2 separate regions of the Homo sapiens genome follow, and region 1 is linked to region 2. Evidence: fine-mapped expression QTL. A gene starts in region 2. The other region holds a variant in brackets. All regions are shown on one strand. Distances are from middle to middle.

Region 1 (8,941 bases), 220 kb before region 2:
GCCGAGTGGCCTGTTTTGTCAGGCCGCTGATTGGTGCGTTTACAATCCCTGAGCTACATACAAAGGTTCTCCACGTCCCCATCAGATTAGTTAGATACAGAGTTTCCACACAGGTTCTCCAAGGCCCCACCAGAGCAGCTAGATACAGAGTGTCGACTGGTGCATTCACAAACCTTGAGCTAAACACAGGGTGCTGATTGGTGTGTTTACAAACCTTGAGCTAGATACAGAGTGCCGATTGGTGTATTTACAATCCCTGAGCTAGACATAAAAGTTCTCCAAGGCCCCACCAGAGCAGCTAGATACAGAGTGTGGATTGGTGCACTCACAAACCTTGAGCTAAACACAGGGTGCTGATTGGTGTGTTTACAAACCTTGAGCTAGATACAGAGTGCCGACTGGTGTATTTACAATCCCTGAGCTAGACATAAAGGTTCTCCAAGGCCCCACCAGAGTAGCTAGATACAGAGTGTGGATTGGTGCACTCACAAACCTTGAGCTAAACACAGGGTGCTGATTGGTGTGAGCCCAGCTGCCTTCACCTAGTGGATCCCGCACCGGGGCTGCAGGTGGAGCTGCCTGCCAGTCCTGCGCCGTGCGCTCGCATTCCTCAGCCCTTGGGTGGTCGATGGGACTGGGCGCCGTGGAGCAGGAGGTGGTGCTCGTCGGGGAGGCTCCGGCCGCACAGGAACCAATGGAGTGGGTGGGAGGCTCAGGCATGGGGGCTGCAGGTCCCGGAGCCCTGCCCCGCGGGAAGGCAGCTAAGGCCCGGCGAGAAATCGAGCACAGCGCCGGTGGGCCGGCACTGCTGGGGGACCCAGTACACCTCCGCAGCCACTGGCCCGGGTGCTAAGTCCCTCATTGCCCGGGGCCAGCAGGGCTGGCTGGCTACTCCAAGTGCGGGGCCCGCCAAGCCCACGCCCACCCGGAACTCCAGCTGGCCCGCAAGAGCCGCACGCAGCCCCGGTTCCCGCTCTCGCCTCTCCCTGCACACCTCCCTGCAAGCTGAGGGAGTGGGCTCCAGCCTTGGCCAGCCCAGAAAGGGGCTCCCACAGTGCAGTGGGGGGCTGAAGGGCTCCTCAAATGCCACCAAAGTGGGAGCCCAGGCAGGGGAGGCGCCGAGAGCAAGCCAGGGCTCTGAGGACTGCCAGCACGTTGTAACCTCTCAGTATGACTTAAATTGTGTGGGTATTTCAAATAATTGAAAGTTTTTGGACAAAAGAATATGTAATGTCTAAAGCACTGTTTTTAGAAAATTATTTTGGTAGTTGTTTAGAAGGAATTAATGCACAAAACCATCATAATGATTCAAGTTTGAAATGAAAAAATAATTCATAAGGTTTAGAAACTGATGAATTTATTTAGAAATACCCGGTTTGGGCCGGGCGCGGTGGCTCACGCTTGTAATCCCAGCATTTTGGGAGGGCAAGGTGGGCGGATCACGAGGTCAGGAGTTCGAGACCAGCCTGACCAACATGGCGAAACCCCGTCTCTGCTAAAAATACAAAAAAATTGGCCAGGCCTGGTGGCACATGCCTGTAGTCCCAGCTACTCGGGAGGCTGAGGCAGAAGACTCGCTTGAACCCGGGAGGCAGAGGTTACGGTGAGCCGAGATCATGCCACTGCACTCCAGCCTGGGCGACAGAGTGAGACTCGTCTCAAAAAAAAAAAAAAAAAAAAAAAGAAATACCCGGTTTGGGCCGGGCGCGGTGGCTCACGCCTATAATCCCAGCACTTCCGGAGGCCGAGGCTGGTGGATCACCTGAGGTCAGGAGTTCAAGACCAGCCTGGCCAACATGGTTAAAATCTGTCTCTACTAAAAAATACAAAAATTAGCCAGGTGTGGTGGCAGGTGCCTTAATCCCAGCTATTTGGGAGGCAGAGGCAGGAGAATCGTTTGAATCCGGGAGGCAGAGGTTGCAGTGAGTCGAGATTGAGCCATTGCACTCAAGCCTGGGGGACAAGAGCGAGACTTCTCTTAAAAAAAAAAAAGGAAACAAAAAAAAAAGAAATACCTGGTTTGAGGCCGGGCGCGGTGGCTCACGCCTGTAATCCTAGCACTCTGGGAAGCTGAGGTGGGTGGATCACCTGAGGTCAGGAGTTCGAGACCAGCCTGGCCAACGTGGTGAAACCCCGTCTCTACTAAAAATACAAAAATTAGCTGGGTGTGGTGGCATGCGCCTGTAATCCCAGCTATTCGGGAGACTGGGGCAGGAGAATTGCTTGAACTTGGGAGGCGGAGAGCTGAGACTGTGCCACTGCACTCCAGCCTGCGGAGAGCTGAGACTGTGCCACTGCACTCCAGCCTGGGCAACAGAGTGAGACTCCATCTCAAAAAAAAAATTTTTTTTTAAATTCCCGGTTTGAAATTGAAAATCAGAAATAAAATTAGGTCAGGCCCATTTATTTATTTATCTATTTATTTATTTATTTCCTGAGATGGAGTCTCGCTCTGTTGCCCAGGCTGGAGTGCAGTGGTGCCATCTCGGCTCATTGCAACCTCCACCTCCCGGGTTCAAGCAATTCTCTTGCCTCAGCCTCCCGAGCAGCTGGGATTACAGGCATGTGTCACCACGCCTGGCTAATTTTTGTACTTTTAGTAGAGATGGGATTTCACCATGTTGGCCAGGCGGTCTCAAACTCCTGACCTCGTGATCTGCCCGCCTCGGCCTCCCAAAGTGATGGGATTACAGGTGTGAGCCAACACGCCCAGCCATTCAGGCCTAGTTATTTAGATTTGGGTGTTGCTTATTGAATCTTTGAATATGGAGGAAAAGTTATGAGATAAAAAGAATAAAAATAGAGACTATTCAAAGGCTATGCATGGGACTGGGCACTGTGGCTCATGCCTGTAATACCAGCACTTTGGGAGGCCAAGGTGGGTGGATCAGCAGGTCAAGAGATCAAGACCATCCTGGCCAACATGGTGAAACCCCATCTCTACTAAAAATACAAAAATTAGCTGGGCGTGGTGGTGCACATCTGTAGTCCCAGCTACTCGGGAGGCTGAAGCAGGAGAATCGCTTGAACCTGGGAGGCAGAGGTTGCAGTGAGCCAAGATTGCACCACTGCACTCCAGCATGGCGACAGCGAGACTCCATCTAAGAAAAAAAAAACAAAACTAAACCAAAGGCTATGCATGAGACAAAGTGAACAGTTTATTACTGTGATTATAATAAAATGTTGAATTTATATAGGGTAAAATCTTGATAGAATGCTTGAATTATATAGGTATTATGGGAAATACAATGTTATGGTTAATTGAAGAATAATACAAAATTTTGTTTTAACTTTTGCTCGCTGGGTTTTTTTCCCCCCCCAAAAATTATACTTTTTTTCCTCTTGATAATTAGGAAACACAGATAAATTATTTTTAGATGATTCAAGATGCCACTATCCTTCAAGTTGATTATTGTAAAATACGTGTTTTCAATGTAAAATAACACAGTTATGGAGTTTGGGATATAGCCATGGTAACGACAGAACATACCCTGGTGTTTTAAGATTAGGGAAAGTCGGATAACATCAAAACAATTCTAAGAAAAAATTTTAAGTATTTTTCAGGCTCTATTAATTAAGAAGTACTTCAGTGCTTTTTTTTCTTTTTTTTTTCCAACACTACAAAGGCTAAAGATGTTATTATCAAATGTATTACTACATCATTGGCACAGTTTCTATTGGTATCTACTTGCTTTTTAATACGGAAGATGTTTATGATTTACACTCCTCCTACTTTAGAAATTCTCTCCATTCACTTCTTTTGTGCCCCTCCAGATATAATCTGAACTTCCAGGAATAGATCATTCTTGGTGTTACAAATGTTGGCTTCCCCCCTCCCTGGAATTCTATTAGAATGTTTCTGTCACTTTAGAAGCTTTCTTATTCTGGTGTAACATGCCAAGAAACCCAGGTATAAAATAGTGATTGTTGAATCTTACTTTGACACGTGTGCCCGTCCTTATAAATCTAGACCCTGTACATTACATGCATACAACTATCCCTATGGATCTACTAGTAAATAATCTCACAGACTCCACCTGAG[G/A]CTTCTGGAAAAAAAAACAATTACCTTAAATTTTATTAAGAGCTCTTCGTAACCTACTGAGCAAGATCAGTGAATCCTAAAAAGATTCAGTCCCCGGTTCCCAAAGCGCTTCCCCGCCCCGTGTTTCTGAACAGCTGGAGAGGACAAACCTCCGCTAAGAAGCGGAGGCCGCCAGTGCTCATCACACGCAGGAATTAGGATATCTGGCTTGAGAACACCTATGCTGTACCACATTCTTCTCTCCCCCTACCCCGCCTGAAATAAAACATAGTGAAGCGTAAATCTTGAGTCCCTTGGTACCTTCTCAGAAACGGCGGCGAGGAGGCTTCAGAGGGGCTTCCTGGGCGGGGATCCAGACGGTCGCGCGGGTATTCAGCACTCTGGGCGGGACAGTCCCTGTCCCGAAGGGAGGGCCCAGGAGGGGTGGAGCCGTCCCCGCCCGAACACGGGGGCATCCGCGCTCCCCGTAGGGTACCCCGCGTGCTGGCTCCGAAGCGGTGGCCGTCGGGGTGGCGCTCTTCCTCCGCTCTTTGGGGTCCCGGCGCCCCTCAGGGCAGGGCGGGAGACCGCTGAGGAGGCACCCTCAAGTTCACCTCAGGCTCATGACACCAGCCCCGCCGCGGTTCCCCCTGACCGGCTTTCCGCTGGCCCTGGCGGCTGCGGAACGGTCAACTAGACCCCACTAGCTGAAGCCGGCATCACCTGGGAAGCAGCCATGCCGCCCGGAGGCCACACCCGGGGGAGGAGCCTGCGGACGCCCAGTCGGGTGGAGCACGCCAGGTGAGCACGCCTGCGCAGTCGGGCCGTAAACAAGCCCACCCCTTCCCTTTGGCCCGCCCTCGCAGGGCTGGCCCGCGGGTGGGAGGGGCGAGAAGGAAGAGGCAGGGGGTGGGGGAAGAGGGAGCACCAGGAACAGCGCCTGCGCGGTGGGCGTGATCCGGGCACTTAGGGCAGGATGAACGCTGCTTTCCAAGATGGCGACGGAGGGAGGAGGGAAGGAGATGAACGAGATTAAGACCCAATTCACCACCCGGGAAGGTCTGTACAAGCTGCTGCCGCACTCGGAGTACAGCCGGCCCAACCGGGTGCCCTTCAACTCGCAGGGATCCAACCCTGTCCGCGTCTCCTTCGTAAACCTCAACGACCAGTCTGGCAACGGCGACCGCCTCTGCTTCAATGTGGGCCGGGAGCTGTACTTCTATATCTACAAGGGGGTCCGCAAGGTACCGACCCGGGCGTCACCGGAGCCAGCCAGCGGCGTAGGCAGAGGCCGGGAGCAGGGCGGTGACAGTGGGGCCAGGGTGACCGAGAGGGGTGGCCGTCGCTCTTACTTTTGAGTGGGCCGGTAACTCCACTGGGGTACTCCTGAGGAGAGGGGATTCAGGAGTAAGGAGGGTGGTGGCGGTGGCGTTTCGAAGGGGTGGGGGCAGTGGAAAGGGACCGTGGGGCGCGGGGGTTCTGGCTGGGAGGCTCCCGGGGGAGCCGGCTGCGTCCCCTCCAGCCTGGTCCATCAGGCTCTGACATGGCCAGGGAGCGGGCCTGCGAGTCCCCGGAAGAGGTGAGGTGGCCGTCTTGTCTGCTTCGATTGCCTCGCCTCCCTGGAGGGTTGGAAGTCTCGCCCTGGGTTAGAGAACAGGGACGCAAGACGGCTTAACAAGATCTCTGTAAGGCGGAACCGGGGCCGGGAAGCGGAGCATTGAGACTAGGTCAGAAAGAACCTGCTCGGCACGCAGGGCTACTCCACCTGCTGCCGCACTGACACTTCCTAGGAGCCTCTCCTGGTGTTAACATTTCTATTTCCAAAAACATCCGCGGGAGGACGGCTGTCACTGTCTCCGCCGTGGGGACCTTCTGAAAGATTGTTAAGGAGAGTCATCTTGTCCCTTGTAGTATGCGAAGGGCTGAGTACTACAGTTGAAATGATGTTTCCAGTGAACTAAGCTGGTTCAGAGGGGTTGTGTGAGAGTGCCCAGATTAATCTTGTCCAACAAGTCAGACTGTGTCCCAAACAGGGAGTGATATGCTTTAAAAGCTGCTTTAAAGGGACCATCCTTCTTGGCGGGCGAGTTACCGGTAATTCTGTGAAACATGTAAGCATCCTTTAAAAGTATCTCTTTAAAAGCAGCCATTTATTAGAGTTTTTCTTTCATTGGCTATGTAACTATGTTTTCACTGAGAATTGCTTATTTTTGAGATTGTAGTCTTTGACTTGATGTCATGGAAGAGTGAGGAAATTAATGCATCCCACAGCACCTCCAAATAGGACAAGGTGATAAAAGATTAAGTCGTAAATGCATGTTAGCATGAAAATAAATTGTTCATATTGAAGAGTGAACATTCTTCAGGATTTAATATAGCCAGATCCAGTACAGGATTTTCGCTTGTTACAAGAGCTAGGGAAATGACAGTGGTATCTAAATGTAGCAAAGTTGTTTCTTTGATTCAGGGTGAATCTTTTTTTCTTAGTCTTTATGATAATAAGTGTACCACTGTATTTAGGGTATGCTGTTGGAAGTTATTAAGGGTAAATCGCTTGACCTTTTTTTTTTCCTCGTTTGGAATTGCAAAAGCTCGAAGTAGTCTTCAGTCTAGGGGCTGAAGTTTTACTCCTACTCCCAACTTTGTCACTGACTTGTTTGGGTGACCTTGGATAAGTTATTTAACTTCTATTTGCACCTCTTTAAAAAGGGAATGTTACAGTGCACGTTGTAATTAATAATATAATAATCATAATGAACTTTAAGGCCCTGAAACACTCAGTAGATGTAAAATATAGTTAAATACTGACTGTCAAATAAGAAGCTGCTGTCTTGACATTGATAATCAGAGTGAAAGGACCAATTTTGTCTCAGGAAATTAAGTTTAGAATTTTAAGTTATAAAAATTTATATTTATATAAAAATACGATGTGCTTAAAAACTAAATTCACTAACTAGCAATTATTAATGTAGGAATTACTTAAAAATTTTTTTTTCTTTGAAATGTTATGACTTCTGAAGCATCCTAATGGCAGACCTTATCTGGATCTGGTAGCCCTGTTTTACATCATAAAGACAGGTTTCTTGCCTGGAAGTATCATTACAATAGTGTTCTCTTTTAGTGGGACGCTATTCCCTGAAGGGTAAAAGGAGGCAAGGTTTTTAAAACCACACCAAAAAATTATTTTAAACAAGATAAATGTGAAATACGTAAATTGCCCTTACCTGCATAATTTGAGTGTTTTAACGCTTTTTGGGTAAAATTTCATTTTCATGTGGTAGTATCTTGTAGATACATTTGCATTGTGTTGCAGATGTTTCTACTCTCTTTTAATTGTAACTTAAACATTTTTTTCCATGAATGAGTTGGCATTTATTTGTTGTTATTTCTGAGTATAAGTGACTTTTTATGACTATTTTCTGATTTAAAATATAGGAAATACATTTTCCTTAATTGGAAAACCAAAATTTACTTTTTAGAGTTAGTAGTTACAAACATATTTTTGACAGTTGGCTATTAAACATGTTTTTGTTTTTGTTTTTAGAGACAGGATCTCATCCTGTTGCCTAGGCTGGAGTGCGGTGGCGTGCTCATCGTTCACTACAGCCTCAAACTCCTGGGCTCAAATGATCTTCCCACTTCAGCCTTCCTAGTGGCTGGAACTACAGGTGTGCACCACCCTGGCTAATTAAAAAAAAAAATGTTTTTTAGAGATGGAGGTCTTGCCGTGTTGCCCAGGCTGGTCTTGAACTCCTGGCCTCAAGCGATCCTCCCACCTCAGCCTGCTAAAGTGCTGAGATTATAGGTGTGACCCACCATGCCCAGCGCACAGTTGGCTGTTTTGACTTTTTTTTTTTTTTTTTTTTTTTGGTCCTTTGAGGCGTGTAAAATTTTACAATAATTATTTGGATTATTCAGAAGATCTAATTTAGATGAGTAAATTCAACTTAAGTCTGTGTGTAAAATGAGTAGAAAATAGGTCTTTTAAAGAACTTAACTCATTAATTACGTGCTACCATTCCTGAGAGGAAACATGGGGTCCTGGGGAAATGGAGTAGGTGAGGAAGTAGTCTAACGTTCATGCTGAGGAGTGCAATCTTGATCCTTTTAAAAGGTTTACAGGTCAGTGTCTGGAGCTAGAAGGAACTTTAGAGTTTGTTATTTCACCCTCCTCAGAGCGAACCAAGGCCAGAGAGGGGATGCAAACCTGTTAGAATTTTTTCTCATAGTAAGGAAAATGAAGCACAGCTGAGTCTAAACCAGCTTAGAAGAGACTGATCCACCTTTTTGATCACAGGGATATTATATACTCCGAGCACTTCAGAATCTACCCCGGCATTTTGCCATATATTATTTTATTAAATTCTTGAGGTAGATTAAAACATCTTTTCACAATCGAGGAAGTTTAGAGTGGGGTTTCTTGTGTGAGGAGATGTAGTTTTGCAAATTTATTTAAAGACAGTATTAACATTGATTTAATACTGACACTAATCATTTTACCAGATTTGAGTGACTACTGTGATAGTAATAATACCAGGCAAGGTGATGTGAGGTATTCAGAGCTAAATAAGACCCTGTCCCTCTCCCCAAAAGACTTTCAACTACTAGCTTTTAAACATCTTTTTTTTTTTTTTGAGACAAAGTCTAGCTCTGTCACCCAGGGTGGAGTGCAGTGGCACAATCTCGGCTCACTGCAACCTCTGCCTCCTAGGTTCAAGCGATTCTCCTCCCTCAGCCTCCCGAGCAGCTGGGACTACAGGTGCGTACCACCACGCCCAGCTAATTTTTGTATTTTTGGTAGAGATGGGGTTTCATCATATTGGCCAGGCTGGTCTCGAACTCCTGACCTCGTGATCCACCCTCCTCGGCCTTCCAAAGTGCTGGGATTACAGGCGTGAGCCACTGCGCCCGGCCGTAAAC
Region 2 (8,941 bases):
GGCTCACCCTCTTATTAGGGGATATTGCAGTTAGTGACTTTAAGTTGAATCCAATGCTCATTTACCATTCTCAAATTCCTAGGGCCCTTAAGAATGATGTTAAATCTACTCTGCCAGTGGAAAAAGCAAGAGAACCAGAACTGGAAGTGGGGTCTGAAGATGGAACTGAATTGCTGCAATCTCATGAGAAAACTTGAACAGATAAGGAATTGTTTCTTATGGATGAGCAAAGAAGGTGGTTTCTTGAGATGGAATCTATTCCTGGGAAAGACACTGTGCACACTGTTGAAATGACAACAAAAGATTGAGAATATTATATAACTTAGTTGATAAACCAGTGTGAGAGGTCTAATGTGGGTAAACACTATTAAACAGCAATGAGAAAGAACAGAACCAGAATAGTGGCTCTACATTACACGCATGGCTTCCATGTTGAAAGACAGTGAGACATGGCTGGGCGCAGTGGCTCATGCCTGTAATACCGGCATTTAGGGAGGCCAAGGTGGGCAGATCACTTGAGGTCAGGAGTTTGAGACTAGCCTGGCCAACATGGTGAAACTCTGTCTCTACTAAACATACAAAAATTAGCCGGGCATGGTGGCAGGTATCTGTAATTCTAGCTACTCAGGAGGCTGAGACAGGAGAACCACTTGAACCTGACAGGCAGAAGTTAGAGTGAGCCAAGATCACGCCATTGCACTCCAGCCTGGGGGATAGAGTGAGACTCGTCTCCAAAAATAAAAAATAAAAAATAGAAAAAGAAAGTGAGATATAAAGGAAACAATAACATATGTTTTTTGTTTACGTAAAATCCAAAAATGGATGAAAAGAATTCATGGTAGTTTTTTCCATATCAGCTAGGTAATGTGCCAACATCATAGCAAAGTTTGAGGAAGGCACAGGTCATACATGAGCATGAAAACCCAATCATTATGCCTATGAACTACAAAAGAATCAAAGAATCTGTGGTTTTAAAAATCAGAATAGCCAGGCACGGTGGCTCACACAGCACTTTGGGAGGCTGAGGCAGGTGGATCACGTAAGGTCAGGAGTTCGAGACCAGCCTAACATGGTGAAAGCCCGTCTCTACTAAAAATACAAAAATTATCTGGGTGTGGTGACGGGCGCCTGTAATCCCAGCTACTCCGGAGGCTGAGGTAGGAGAATTGCTTGAACCCAGGCGGTAGAGGTTGCAGTGAGCTGAGATCGCGCCATCACACTCCAGCCTAGGCAACAGAGTGAGACTTCATCTCCAAAAAAATAAATAAATAAATAACTAAATATATATATATATATATATATATATGGAATATAATTTTGTATTTAAAATGTACAATACAATTTATACTTACACGTATCATCTTACCACTTGCTTTTTTTGCTTAATATTTTATTTTAAAATTTATTCACATTATTTCCCCAGTTATTAAGGGTGAAAAACTTAGAGCATGAAAAACCAATATGTACTTACAATAAACTGATTTTCAAGTTGGCAATATTATTTGCAGTGGTAAAACCTGCATCATTGAGGGTTTCCCACTTCAGGATTAAATTGTGCCAATCAGCCGCATTGTCCTTAATTTTTCTTGCACTGACAGATAAGACAGGTTTTCTGGGCGTTACAGTTCCAAGAGTCTTTGCTGATAGGGTATAAAAGAAACAAAATTATTATCATGGAATATACAATCATAGTTGGAGGGCAAATGTCCTTATAATTTTCAACAGTAAAACTATCTGAAATGCTGTATCAACTGGACAAATAAATGTGGAAACTACAAAGTCTGAATGAATGTGAAAGTTCCTGGAAGAAGACAATATAGAATATTTTTAACATTTTAAAATTCACCAGATAGAGCTGAATCCTCTTCCAGCTTAATGGCTCCACAAAGTTTTTACCTTAAGCCCTTTGTTTTCCAAAGATTGGAAATAAGGTAAAGTTGTGACTGTCTGCTAAAACTCTTCAATGGCTCACGTTCCCTTCCCTACAGGATAATCTAGCCCTGACTCCCGAGTACTTCCACTATCTAGTCTCAGGCACTCTGATACTTTAAATTTGCTCAGAGTAGCGTGGCCCATGAGTGCTAATCATTTCAAGACACTGAGACAACAGAGATGCAGAGTTGATCACGATGCTGCCACTGCCCTTCTTGGTAATCAGGAGGAAGTCCAAAATCCTTCCAGACCTAGCTACCCCTCCACATCATCACGTACATCAACCCACACCTTGGCCCCCCGTCAATATCCAGCGAAAATGAACTACTGGCAGCTCTTGAAAAGCTGAGGTGCCTGCAGGCCTTTACACGTGTTCTCTCTGCAGGAAAGCTCCTTCCTTCCTCAGGCTCACGATGCCCATCCTCCAAGATGCACCCGGATCCCACTGCCTGTAGGAAGCAACCCCCAGACCACCAAGAGCCAACTCAGGTTGTTTGTTCTCCCCGAACCCTCCTGTGCCCTCTTGCCTTCTCTACTTTGAACCCCACAAAGGCTTCTCACTGCCCACAGGATAAAGTCCTCTTGAGGAATCCAGGACACACAACAGCTGGATGGTTTGATGCCTCAAGTCAGAAGACCACACTGCCTGCGTCTGAACCCCAGCTCGCCAGCTGTGAGATCTTGGGCAACTTAATGTACCTTTCAGAGCCTCAACATTTTCATCTGTAAAATGGGAATAAAAATAGTATCTATTTCATAGGATTGCTGAGATTAGATAATATATGTGAAGCTGTGAGGCCTCGCACAAGGCAAAAACCCAGTATCTCACCTGTTAGCTCAAGGGCCTCTACTATCCAAGCTCTGCCCACCACTTCAGCTTCTACCCTTTCCCACTTGCCCTCTGTGCATCAGAGCTGGCTCTGTACAAGTTCTGACTTTGACCTGGAATATTTTTCCTATCTGTGTGTGTCCCCACTCCCCTGCCTCATACTTAGTATCCTCACTTTAAAATATCATCTTGATTTATCATTCATTCTTTACTTAAACAACAAATATTTGCTTACTGCCTACAATACGCCAGGCATGGGGGAATGAAGTGATTGAATGAGACGGACCAGGACCGTTTTCATGGAACTTACTTTCCAAAGGGGAGGCAGATAATAAACAAATGACCACGATCAGTTCAGATCATGATTAAGTGTGTGTGGAAAATAAAACAGGGTCTTGTGTTAGTGTGATCCCCTGAGAAGGTGTCGTTTAGGCTGAGATTTGAATGATGAAAAGCCAGAAATAGGGTAGGTCAGTAGTATGTGCCCTAATTATGATAATGAGGTTGGTGAGTTCAAAAAACAGAAAACAAAACAAAACAAACAAGCAAACAAAAAAACCAGTGTGCTGGAATGAAATAGACAGAAAAGGACTAGTGCGTGAGTAGGTGATCAGACAACTAGAACCTAATAGGCCAAGATAAGAAGTTGGACCGAGGGCAGTGGCTCACGCCTGTAATCCCAGCACTTCAGGAGGCCAAGGCGGGCGGATCACGAGGTCAGGAGATCGAGACCATCCTGGCTAACACAGTGAAACCTCATCTCTACTAAAAAAATACAAAAAATCAGCCGGGCGTGGTGGCGGGCGCCTGTAGTCCCAGCTACTCAGGAGGCTGAGGCAGGAGAATGGCGTGAACCCGGGAGGCGGAACTTGCAGTGAGCCCAGATCGCGCCACTGCACTCCAGCCTGGGTGACAGAGCGAGACTCCGTCTCAAAAACAAAACAAAACAAAACAAAACAAAACAAAATAAAAAAATGAAGTTTGGACTTCTAAGTATTAGCTTGGTGCAAAAGTAACAGATTTTGCCATTACTTTTAACAGCCAAAATTGCCATTACTTTTGCACCAACCTAATACAATGGGGAGTGAGCAATGAGCTCTGGATAGGGCAGTGAAATTATCTGATTTAGGTTTTTAGAAAGTCATTTCCACAGAGAAGTATTCCTGGATCCCCCAGGTTGGGTTACGACTCACCACTAGATATGTGGTACACCCTATAATTCTGCTATCATGATATTCACCAGTGGAGTGTATTTGCTTGTTTAATGTCTATATTCCCTGCTAAACTGGAAATTCGACTAGGGTAGGAACTATGTCTCGTTCTCTTTCAAACCTTCCACACATAGGAGGCTTTGCATAAAATGAGGTAAATGGAGGAATAGCTCTTACCACCTGTTCTATAATTGTCTAAGGGTTTTCCCCCCAACAGGAGATTCTGAGGGCAGGATCACATCTGATTCATGGTCAGCCTGACTCATACGGGGCACATATTTAGGAACCAAAAACATAACTGACTTCAAGAAACTCAAGGGCTGGTAAAGACAGACCAGTCATCAGCGTCACAGGACAGGGTAGGGTGAGGGCACAGTGGCTAAGTTACTTATCCCCTCTGAGCCTCGATTCCCCATCTGCAAAATGGGGTTGACATTACTTCATGGGACCACTGTGAGGTTCAAATGAGATGATCCACTTAAAGTGCTTGGAGCAGTACTCAGCAAACTGAGCACTAGGCGAAAGCCAGCTTTCATTACAAGCAGAATGTTCTGACTGAGGGCAGTTCAGAGAGGAGTTTCTGGACGAGATGAGCATGCAAGGCTTGGTACCCAGTGAACTCTGTTAGTACTAATTTATAGTGACAATAATTACAATTTGGATGTCGGATCTGCTGACACTCATTTGCGTATATCGTCCCGTTCATCTGTCACTGCACATGTGAAAAAACGGAGGCTCGGCAAAACTGTCTCCCGAGCAGCTCGCAGAGGCTGCGAGGGGCCTGCGGGCTAGGCTGGGGTAAGACAGAGGACCTCCATTTAACCTCATGTAATCCGGGGAGCTCCTGAGCTTCTGGTCCAACCTGCGGCCTAAGCAGTAACATTCACAGCCACCCCACCCCGGGAAAGGAACCGATCTCACGCACCTTCCATAAGGTCCACAGATATCCGTAGAAGGAGACGCGAAGCCCCGCCCACCCCACCGGAAACGCATTTGCGTCACGTCCGCCCCGCCCGCTGCCACTTGTGGCTCTGCCGCTCTAGCCCCCGGCGGAGCCAGCTGCTGCTCTTCGGTGCTGGCCCCGGTGCCGGCCCCGTTGCCCAGGGAACAGGCTCCCGGCAGCCCCCGCGGCCCGGAGTCCATCCCGCCTCCTCCGGCCCGGCGGGGCCGACGAGTCCGGAGGGGCTGCCGCGGGAGGTGAGTCCGGCGACGCCGCAAGCGGCCCCGACGCCCCCGACGCCCCCGACGCCTGGCCCCGAGCCCCTCCTCGGCCTCCCCCGGGCCACTCTTCCCTTGCCTCAGCCCCGCAGGGTCTCCATGCCCGTCCGCCCCGTCTCCCTCGCCCGCGGTCTCGCCCGCGCGGAGTGGCGGACACTAAATGCCACAACACACGGAGCGCCTGGCTCGCCGCCCGCAGAATCCGGCGGTCCGCAGCGGGGAACAGGGGCCGCCCGCCCCTCCTCAGGCCTCCGCTGCGCGTCCCGCGCCCTCGGCCCCCGGCCCCACCCTGCATCCCGGCTGCCGGTCTGGCCGCGGGCTCTGCTCCTTCGCCTTAAGATTGACGTCGTGTTCTGTCCCCCACTCGCAGCCCGCGTCCCTTACATCCGCCCACCGGCGCCTGGCCCCAGGCCTTGACACTCATCCAGTTGGTGTTCAGTGTTCGATGAGTGGATAAGTGAATGACTCCTTTCCCAATCCTATTTGAAGGCATGGGAGGCAGAATAGGTAGTAAGTGTTAAAGGATGGGGTGTCCTGGAGTCAGAGCCGGGCAGGTCCCAGCGGCCCCTTCCTAGCTCTGTGCTGGGGCAAGTGCCCTACCTCACTCCGCTCCAGTTTCATCACCAGTGGAATGGAGATGAGAATAGTTTCTACCTCTGGCTTGGTAAGAGGATTAAATGGGTCAGTGCATGTAAAGTTAAGCACGGTGCCTGCCGCTGTACATTTCAGTAAAGGGGAGCCCCTGCTGTCATCTGTGCTAGCCTGCGTTCTCGCCCTCTAGTCCCTTCTGATATGTCTCTGACTTCTCATGACTTTAGTTTCTCCTTCTCTACCTCCATTTCTCTTCCCTGCACTTTTTTCTTCCTCTCTTATTGGGATTCAGGAATTTTATTCTGTTCTGTGACTTATGTTCCATGTGTTGGCAGAATGTGGGATACCAGCCTGGGTGCATCCTTTTCTCATCTATTGGAGTGACCAGTTGCACTTGTGGACTGCCTCCTTGCAGCCAAGGTCTTGTAGACAGAGTTCTGGGAAATCTCAAAACGCAAATCCCAGGCATAGGTAGAATCTGGGAATGAAGCCACTGTAGCTCCTTGTGATCACCAGCGATTCCTGGTCTTTTAGGCTGCAGGACTTTGTGTTTTCTCACACCCAGCTATAATGTACCTTGATAAACCTCTGACCTTATTTTTGTTGTTGTTGTTGTTAACCTGACTTACGTCCCATATTGGTGGTTATTTGGCCATCGTGTGCCAGCACTGTGCCAGGCTGGCTCTAGGGATGCTGTGGTGAACCAGACAGACCCTTCCTGAGGTCACTGCCTCAGAAAGATCATGGTCTGGCCCATGAACTTTAAAAGGGAGAACTAAGTGCAGGTGTAGGGGACACACAAATTGAATTTTCAGGACTGCCTTGGAAAACCAGTGGTGGGGAAGATGGAATGAGGATAACCCTCTTCTGAAGGAGTGACTAGGAAGTAGCTTTTGTTAGGCATCAGCTATATTATACCCACGTGTCTTTTTCAATAGAAGACTGGCATCTACTGGATTTTTTTTTCCAATTTTTTCTTAAAGAAGTTACACTTAAGTTTGGGGAGAATTTCATTTCATATTAGCCGCTGTAGGAGTTGAAAAAAATGGCTACTGGAACTTAGTGGGAAGAAAAGGAAGGAAACAGGCATCAGGCAGAGGCAGTTGATTGAACTTGGGAAGATGAGGAATAGATCAGGAAAGGGTTATAATGAAAAGCTTTGGTGTCAAGCACGAAGAGATTTCTAGATTCAGTAATGCACAGAGAGATCAGTAAAATTAGAAGGGAGTAGTTGATGGCTTTGCGAATTGCTAAGGTAGAAGGGAGCTGTTACTCAAGATGCATGTTCAATTTAAAATGAATGTATTCTTTGGACCTGGACATAAGAGTTCTATTGACTTTTTGCCACTATTTTATATTTAGGGCTGTCATACTTGGGTGAATCTAGCACAGTGCTTTGAGAGAGAGATTCATTCAACAAACGTGTATTGAGCATTGATTGTACCATACTCTTTATTGGTCTTTTAAAGCACCACAAAGTATACAGACTAGAAGAACATAGGTGAAGATGAGAAAGAGTCCATTGAAGGGGAGAGAAAACAGATAATGATGGTGCTGTGCGATAACTGCCATCATGGAGTTCTGTGAAAGCAGAGAAAGACCAACCAAGTATCTGAGGGAATTTATGAAGGCTTCCTGGTGGCGGAGGACTAGTTCTTACAGGGCACATGTGGGGGAATAGGGAAGAGTGGAAAGGGACTTTGTTCTGCAGAGACATACAGGTTATGGTGTGTGCAGGGACTGTGATGGAAAGCTGATGGATGCACAAACAAAACGTGGCCTGTCTACACAATGGAAGGCTGTTCAGCAATAAAAAGGAACGAAGTACTGATTTGTGCTACAACATGGAGGAACCTTGAGAACATTAGGCTAAGTGAAAGCAACCAGACACAAAATACCACATATTATATGATTCAATTTTGATGAAATCTCCAGAATAGGCGAACTGTAGACAGAGAGGAGATCAGTGGTTGCCCAGGGCTGAGAGAAGAAGCGTGTAGAGGGGTGATTGCTAAAGGGTAGGGAGTGCACAGTGTGTGGATGGAAGAGTGGCCTGAGATGAAGTTAGATATAGACTGTTTTGTCATAGTGTCTAATTTCCATGCTTGTGTTAGGCTTTAGCTTGTGACCATTGGGTAGCCAATGGGGATGGGAGCAAGGAAGTGACAAAATTTTGTCTGGAAGATAAATGACTGCCTCAGTCTCATTACGTTCCTCCTTAATAATTTAATACTCAAATAATTAATAGATGTCGTAGCCAGATTTCAAACATAGATTCTACAATAGGGATACAAATTGTTGCTTCCTAGGGATTTTGGAGAGAATCCTGAAACCATTAGTGTACCCAGAGCACTCTGATAACATGGTTATTGTACAGCGAAGTGGATGACTTAGACTCTATATTAGTCCTAGCTCCAGTTTGAGAAATCATCCATCTGGGTGGCAGTTGGGTGTTAGTAGTCAGCAGTGAAGGCTAGCTGCCACCTTCCAGGGTTATGAGATTGACAGGGCTAGTGGGGAAAGGAAGCATCGTAACTTGAAGGATGCCATAGGGTGGTGTTTTGTATTTTTTTAACTGAAATAGTCATGACTAAGGAAGCATTATTCATTATATTTTTATTTATTTATTTATTTTTGAGATGAAATATCACTCTGTCACCCAGGCTGGAGTGCAGTGGCACGATCTTGGTTCACTGCAGCCTCCACCTCCCAGGTTCAAGTGATTCTCCTGCCTCAGCCTCCCAAGTAGCTGGGATTACAGGTGTGCGCCACCACACCTGGCTAATTTTTGTATTTTTTAGTAGAGATGGGTTTCGCCATGTTGGCCAGACTGGTCTCGAACTCCTGGCCTCAAGCAATCCTCCCACCTCGGCCTCCCAAAGTGCTGGGATTACAGGCGTGAGCCATCATGCCCAGCCCAATTTTAAAAATTGGATTGAGACTATTGTTTTGCAGTAAGACCTGAAGTTAACAAATCTTTACTGAGCATCTACTCTGTGCCAAAGCTATTATTAGATACTAGGATTTACCTTGGTAAGCAAGAGAGAATTCATGTTGCTTACATTCTTGTAGGAGAGATGATTTTTAAATGGTTTAGCAAATAAAGCAATTAGAGGTTGTAATGAGGATTATGAAGCACATATGATAGAGGAAAGAAGGG

What was found.
Region 1: its variant is fine-mapped to the expression of TECPR2 in whole blood (TOPMed, PIP 0.98).

The regions. Positions count from the first base shown.
Region 1 is chr14:102,134,908-102,143,848 of GRCh38, forward strand. WDR20 (WD repeat domain 20) reads left to right here and starts at 4,990. Exons shown (of 3, transcript NM_144574.4): 1 at 4,990-5,265. The coding sequence starts at 5,017. It also overlaps a transcript of HSP90AA1 not described here. RefSeq lists a silencer at 4,230-4,425 and enhancers at 5,026-5,075, 5,086-5,245. The variant G/A (reference allele first, on the strand shown) is at 4,043.
Region 2 is chr14:102,357,948-102,366,888 of GRCh38, forward strand. TECPR2 (tectonin beta-propeller repeat containing 2) reads left to right here and starts at 4,994. Exons shown (of 20, transcript NM_014844.5): 1 at 4,994-5,169. CINP (cyclin dependent kinase 2 interacting protein) reads right to left here and starts at 4,943. Exons shown (of 5, transcript NM_032630.3): 1 at 4,898-4,943; 2 at 1,472-1,640. The coding sequence starts at 4,904. It overlaps LOC124903427 (small nucleolar RNA U13), which reads right to left and starts at 955; the gene lies at 852-955. RefSeq lists silencers at 4,988-5,397, 5,438-5,527.